Linked DNA regions of Homo sapiens. Changing the gene in region 2 together with the main gene of any one other region gives a genetic interaction. Each region holds a gene or a part of one and is shown on either strand. Other genes may lie near its edges.

Region 1 (3,645 bases), on a different chromosome or scaffold from region 2:
TCCCTGGTGACATTTATTGACCCTGGCCCTCAACAGTCCTCTGCCCGCCTGCTCAGTTATTGCTTGGGGCCCAGAATGAATCTCTGCTGGTAAGAAGGAGGGGGTGGTGCCGAGGGCACACAGAAGGCTGACACCCCTGAGCTCCTTGGCCACTAGCAAAGACACTTACACAGACCCACGGGTGCTTGAGAGCCTGGTCAGCCGTGATGCGCTTTGCTGGGTTTATGGTCAGCATCTGGTTGATCAAGTTCTTGGCTTCAGGAGTTACCGTGTCCCATTCTGGTGATGGGAACTAAGGAGCAGGAATAGGGAGAAGAATGTGGTATTGGTGAGCTTCATACCCTGCAACACTGGTTCTGTCTTCAACTCAACTCCTGTAATTGGGATACTCTGTGGTACCTAAAGCTGTGACTGGCAGAGTTGGAGAAGCCCTGCGGCTATTCCAGAACCTGTGTCAACTTAAAGACTTGGAAAGACAGACAGAACAGTCATGTTTAGAATGCCAGAACATCAGATTAGAGCGGGAAGGGGACTCCAACATTCTCTGGTTTAAGCCCAGCTCTATACTTAGGAGGGAACAGAGGCTCAGCAATGTGTCCAAGGTGCCACTGCAGTGGAGGGAGTCTCCAGGCCTTTTGTCCCTGTGTTACACAGCACACCAATGAGGCCGCTCCATTCTTTGCAAGTAAAGATCAAAGGACTTCAGTGGACTCCTCAATTTTAGTTATGAAGAAGGCTGTGCAAAAGAAAGTTGCTCCCTGGGACATAGAGTGGCAAGAATTGGGCCCTGGATGCCCATTCCTGGGTCCTCAAAGTCCCCTGACACCCCCGTATCACGTGACACACTAAACAAGCCTGCTCCCTTGGACAGAGCCCGAGGAGCAAGGACATCTGCCCTTCCTGGCCTGGCTGCCCGGCTCTCTGGTCCTTACATCATAGGCTCCAGCCTTGATCTGCTGATACAGCTTGTGCTGATCCTCATCCCAGAAGGGAGGATAGCCCACCAGGAGGATATACAGGATGACCCCTACGAGACAGAACACACAGGTCATGGGGGTCAGTCGCCTACTTCCCTGAGGAACCAAGAAAAACCATGCAGGGCTCAGAGCCACCTAGAAAGGCAGGGGCCATACCAGAGTCAGAAGTGGATGCCAGCCGATAATGCTATGCTACCAGCCCCTCCTGCTATGCCTCACACTTCACGTCACCAAGTCACACCAGGGATTTCTTTAGGCACAACCCATCCTCTAAGGCGTGGGCAAATCCCTCTCCAAGAAGGATACAATGTCATCCCAGAAGTACGCAGGGAGGAGGGTGTGATGGGAACAGCCATCCCAGGGGCAAACACCATAATTTCACATACACCAGGCACGTGTGTGACCTGCAAGGAATAGCGATGCCTCTTTCTTGCCATCATCGGAAGTTGAGGGCCCTTAACAGCGAAAAGCTGAGAGCGTGGAATGGGCTTACCGCAGGCCCAGATATCCACAGGTTTTCCATAGGGATCTTTCCTCAAGACCTCAGGGGACAAGTAACCTGGGGTGCCAGCAAAACCTGTAGCAAAAGAGAGGGCAGAGGCATACTGAACCCACTTTCTCTCTCGTTAAATCCACACCAGCCATTTCCCCCAAGTCCCATCTTATTCCTGCTGCTTTTGCTACATAAACTCTCAGCACATGGGCAGCAAGAGCTGACAGGCTGGGCTTCTTGTAGCGCCTGGAATCTGAACCAGACGGCAAAGCCGTATGCCTACCAGGAACTCCAGCTCCTTCCCACAGGCAGCAAGAAAGCAGTGCTGACAACAGCTAGACTTACTGTACTGAGTCGCGTACGGCCAAGAGAGATCTCGGAGGCCAGGACCATTAAGGGTCTGGCTTCTAGTTCTAATAGAGGAAGGCAGATCAGGAAGAGGAGGAAGGGCGGGGGCTGCATTCCGGGAAGACAGGATCACCCTTACCAAACCAAGCCTGCTGCTCTCCCTGTACTTCGATGGCTAGGCCAAAATCAGCCAGCTTGACGGCGGCACCCTTGCATTTACTCGCCAGCAGCAGGTTCTCAGGCTGCAGAAGAAACACAGAGAACCTTGTGAGCACCCACCCTGCAGCCCAGAGGAAGCCTAGTTTGGGCCTACGCAGTACCACTATCTGGCACCAGGTGGCGCCAACACTTCATGAGCAGAGGCACGGAGGGGAGCCTGGGTAGTACCTTCAGGTCCCTGTGGACGATGTCATGCTGGTGGATGTGGTTAACACTCTCCAGAATCTGATGTATACAGTGGCTAAAAAAGCAGAAGGAAAAGAAATGTTAGCGCAGGGTTAAACCACCTCATCCACATCCACAACCACATGCTGCAGACTAAGGCATGTGACAAGGGGCCACGGATTCACAGAGAATCACTTAACGGCCACTGGAACCTTAGACTCTGCACATCATCTTGTTCAACCTATTTAAAGAAAGAGGAAACCGAGGCCCAGGCAGATGCAATGGTTTTTCTAGGATCACCGCTAGAACGGGTTCCTCTCACCCCCTTTTGACTGGAAAGGTCTAACACAACCAACTCATTTCCAAGAGATCAGGAGACAGCCCAGAATCCTGAGGAAGAAGAGAGCATCCAATCCCTTCCTTCTTTCTCTTTCTCCATACAGTAACTTTGTTCTTGGAGAAGAAGCTTGTGCTGGCAACTTAGGAAGGAGAGTCCAACTAAACAACCTAAGCTACTTTGGCGGTGGGTGCACTCATTCATTTCCCTAAATGTTTATTGAGTGCCTAGGATAATGAAGATGGACAAGACCCAATAGCTGCCCTGAGGTCTGGCATCCAGTAAGGCAGCTAAAACAAGTACAAAGATACCTTTAAGAAACAATGTACTTAAGAGCTTCCAAACAGGGCATTTAAGGAGCACTTCTGATGATTTTGCGTAGAGAAAAAAACCCAAAGTTATTTTATTATTTTATTTTTGAGACAGGGTCTCACTCTGTTGCCTGGGTTAGAGTGCAATGTCGTGAACACAGCTCACCGCAGCCTTGACCTCCTGGGCTCAAGCAATCCTCCCACTTCAGCCTCCCCAGTAGCTGGGACCACAAGCATGAGCCACCGTGCCCAGCTAATTTTTGTATTTTTTTGTGGAGACAAGGTCTCACCATGTTGCCCAGGCTGGTCTTGAACTCCTGAGCTCAAGTGATCCACCCACCTTGGCCTCTCAGTGTTGGGATTACAGGCGTGAGCCACTGCGCCCAGCCACAGTCACACACGTAAATCAGACTGTCCACATAGCAAACCATCCTGCCATCCCTGTCATCAAACTCCTGACAGGGAGCGGGGGCAGTCTAGAGCAGTGGTTTTCAACTGGGAATGAATTTGCCGCCCGCCCCCCCCCACCGCAGGGGACATTTGGCAATGCCTAGAGAAATTTCTGGTTGTCACAACTGGAGGAGGGGTGCTCCCAGCATTTGGTGGGCAGAGGCCAAGGATGCTTCTAAATGTCTGCCACAATGCACAGGAGAGGCCTCACAACAAGGAAGTACCTGGCCTAAAACGTTAGTAGCACCAAGGCTGAGGAACTTGGCCTAGAATATAGACCCCCGTCATCAGGCACTATCTGGTATATTAAGCACATCTGCAGAGCATCCCAGTGTATGGGGCTGG
Region 2 (3,745 bases):
GTCGCCCGCCCCCAGCTTCGGTCCCGCTCCCCAGGAGCCCCGCCCGCCCGCGATCTTTCCCCGGCCCCGCCCCGCTCCCCGCCCGGCCCTCACCTGAGCTGCGCGGAGCGCGCGTAGCCCTGGAAGTAGCGGAGGCGCGCGAACAGGTAGACCAGGCCGCACAGGGCCGCCGCCCCTGCGAGAGGTACGCACGGGCCTGGTGAGCGCCCTGCGCGGGTCCCGGGGGTCCAGCGCGTGCGCCCCTGCCCCACACCCCGACCTTCATGAAAGAAGATGCCGGCGACCCAGAGCGTGGCGAGGAACAGCGGGAAGTACTCGCTGCAGTTCACCCTGCGGTGGGCGGGTGGGATGAGCGCGCCGGCCGGGATGGTCCTGCGACCCGGACCCGCCTGGGGCTCGCTCCCCGCCCCGCGCCCTCCCGCCGCGCCTCACTGGGCTCGGTAGACGCGCTCGAACTCGGGTGGGCCGGTGGTGAGCGGCGGCGACACGCGGAAGGCCCTGCGCGCCGAGATCACCTGCAGGGAGAAGTAGGCTGGGGGAGGAGGGGGAGCGGGAGTCAGGTCTGGACACCCGAAGCCCCAGAGATGGGAGTGGGAGGGATCCTGCAATCTGGCCCTTCACTTGGCCGTGTCCTCTCCTCCCTAAGGCGGAACCCCGCCCCCTCCCCGCCCGAGGAGACCTCTCGTCTCACCCATCCCTGGCCTGCCCTGTGTCCCTGACATTCAGCGAGGAGGGCAGGGCTGAAGCCTGGGGCGCAGAGAGGCCCTGTCCCAACCTGTGAGTGTATGGGGGAGGGTGAGTGATTCAGGCACAGGGACACCTGCTCCGCGAGAGAGACCACTTGAGTCCTTGTTTCTGAATCATTTCACTCTCAAAACACAGGCAAATGCAGCTTTCAGGTCCCTGGCCAGGAAGTGCCTCGGGAGTCTGAGGGCAGAGCTGGCTGCATCCTCCCAGGTGCAAGGAAGCACACTCCCTGTAGCTAACAGTCCCTGGTCACCCACCTACCAGCGCCCACCAGCAGGGCCCTCTGACCCTGCCTCAGGCCGGGATCACTAAAGCCTGCGTCCCTGTGCCTCCAAACCTCAGTTTCTCTGTTCCTGCATTCCGGTCCCAGGCCTAAATCTGACAGACACCTTCTCTCCTGCTCCCAGGAGGTTGCAGCTGGGACTCTCCTAGCCTAACCCCAGGACCCCAGGGCTGGGGTAGTTGCAGAGGGTGGGCTGGCCCTAAAGTTTCTCTGTGGGCAGGAGCCCTTCTCTTGGTCAGGTGAGGCCAGGCCAGACCACACACAGACCAGTGCTGGCTGTGCGCTCCCTCCCCAGACCTCCCGTCGGACCATCTCCCCCTGAGTCCTGCAGCCCTGGCACCTTTGGTTCTGGGCCCTCTGCAGATGGGTGTCACAGGGTGGCCATCCAGCTCAGTGCAGGAGCAGCTGGAGGTCAGGCTGGCCTGTCTGTTCAGCCCCTTCAGAGCCCCCTCCCCAGGCTGTGCCTTATCCTAGCCCACACACTGTGGAGTAGTGGTGTCTCTTAGGTGGCAAGGATATCTGGCCAAGGAATGTGTCCTTTAGGGCCAGTCTGAGAAAGGCATTAAGCAGGCTCTTTTTAGGGGGCTGGAGGAAGGAGTCCCACCTCTACCCTGCTCCACGTGGTCCCAGTATGGAGGTGCCTTTGAAGCAGAGCCAGGGAATGGGGGCCGCTTGCTGGGACGCCCAGAGAGGGGACAGCTGGAAAGAGCAGAGATCAGCTTCCCCAAGCCCATGGCTATCCTACCATTTGTCCTGGCACCCTTGCCACCCCCAAGTCCTACAGCTCTCACAGCCAGGTGCCCCCCAGTTCCCTGAAAGTCCCCACCCTCTTCCAGCTTGGGCCTGGGCTGGAGTCCCCACCTCTGCCCTCCACCTGGGCCTAGGGGGCAGAGGGCAAGCTGTAGGGATCTAAGGCCCACCCTCTTCCTAGATAGGAACCAGCCCACCTTGCAGCAGGACTCCCAGGAGGGTGACAGCAGCCAGTAGAGCTACCTCGTCCTTCATGGTACCGTCGGTGTGGTGGCACGGGCTGTGTGTGAAGGCGAGCTGGGGAACGCTTAGCCCCGTCTGCTGCTCAGAGGACGGCCCAGGAGAGGAAGAGCAGCCTCGGTGCTCTCCCCGCCCCATCTCAGTGGAGGGGGTGCACGGGGGTGTGACCATACCACACAGAGCCAGGGAGCCAGGCCAAGCCAGCAGGGAGGAAACCAAAGTCTGGGCAGGGGAGAGCAGCTAGCTGGAGACCGCCTCACCACTTCCTGCTTGTTCGTGCCCCTTCCTTGCCTAGTCCCGCGTGGCAGAGCCCAAGCTGTCCATCTGGGTCAGCTCCAGCTGTGGGTGTGCCCCCTGCTGCACCACCCCACTTTCTCCAGGGCCTTGCAGACCCCCACATCATGCTGGAGCCAGCCCCAGGCTCCCGGCTAACTCCTCCACCCACCTTATCTGTTCCCTGTCCCCATCCAGGCTGTTCCTGGCAACCCCTGCCAAACCCTCCTCTGCGGAAGCCCTTCCCAGTGCCTTTGGCTTCAGAATGGAGTCCCAGCGCCCCCCCAGCCACACTGGGCCCCACAAGCTCTTTCTCCTTCAGGAAACCTCATGCCTGCCAGCCTTAGTCGTTGTAGGGGTTCCATGCACAAGGGCCACCCTGCCAGGAGGAAACCTGTCCAAGGCCCCCTGGGTGGCGGGAGGGTCAGCCCTTGTGGGCCATCCCTCTCCCAGGCCTCTCTTGGGCCTCCCACAACAGTCACCTGCTGTGTCTTTCTGCCCCGCAGCCCTCTTGCCTCAAGGTAACAACCCTCCACCACCTTCCTAGACGGCTGCCCTCCCCACACTCAGGCCCTGTGGTCTGGACAGTGCTGACTCCTGCCCCTTCCAGGCCTGTGAGATGGACACTGAGCCAAGGCTGACTCAAGATGGTGAGATGTAGTTCTGGAAACTTCCTTAGGACTTTGGGACAGGAAACTCAGAGTGGGGAGGGGGACTACGGCGGGCCACCCTGAGGACAGAGCCCACGCAGGGCCAGGTGGAGAGGAAAGGTGGCACCCGAGGACTCCTGCCTGGAGTTCTGGGTGTCTCCCTCGCCCCGCCTGGAGCGCCCCCGGCCGCCCCCCTCGCCCTGCCTGGAGTGCCCCTGGCCGCCAGCCTTCCCAGTTGGGCCTAACGGTCACTTCCTCTTTTGGCTTGAGTGGGTTTGCGGTGGCTTTTGGTCAGAAGTGGCAAAGTCCAGACTGACCCAGAAGCACGGGCAGGAGCTGGGGGAGGCCACAGGCCGTGCTGCAGGGGTCGGGCCGCATGGTTCTGCCCTCGCACCTGGTCCTTCCTTGCTGCCCCAAGCTCAGCTCCAGCCTGAGGCTCGGAGCCTGTTGGGCTCTCTCAGAATCCCTTCTTCCTCCTCTGGGTATCGCCCCTGCCCCCGGAAACCAGATATGCCCCAGCTGGGGGCTCTGTGAGCTCCTCCAGGGCAGGGGCCAGGGCTCAGGCCCGGCCCCTGCTTTAGACCAAGCTGTGACAGTCATCTTGGGGCTCAGTGATGGAGGACTGCCTCCTAGATCCCGGACACAGATGTAGTGCCAGGGAGCGATGGTGGCCGCGTCCTCAGACTCTGCCCACTCAGCCTCCTTCCTCCCTGAAACCTGCCCCACAGGGCCTGCCTGAAGGGTGGGATGCAGCCCACCACGCAGGGGTTGACGCTGGTGCCAGTGGGCTGTGCCCAGGGTG

The links.
Region 1: changes in LTC4S (region 2) and CAMK2G together harm fitness more than expected from each alone (negative genetic interaction), as found in Homo sapiens cells (one large-scale study listed by BioGRID).

What each region holds. Positions count from the first base shown.
Region 1 is NC_000010.11:73,847,056-73,850,700, forward strand, and holds part of CAMK2G (calcium/calmodulin-dependent protein kinase type II subunit gamma), read right to left. Parts: intron 2,279-3,645; coding exon 2,206-2,278; intron 2,061-2,205; coding exon 1,958-2,060; intron 1,555-1,957; coding exon 1,471-1,554; intron 1,028-1,470; coding exon 933-1,027; intron 737-932; exon of another isoform or gene 293-736; coding exon 170-292; intron 1-169.
Region 2 is NC_000005.10:179,792,371-179,796,115, reverse strand, and holds the start of LTC4S (leukotriene C4 synthase), read right to left. Parts: upstream 2,131-3,745; 5' UTR 2,036-2,130; coding exon 1,978-2,035; intron 533-1,977; coding exon 433-532; intron 331-432; coding exon 260-330; intron 176-259; coding exon 94-175; intron 1-93.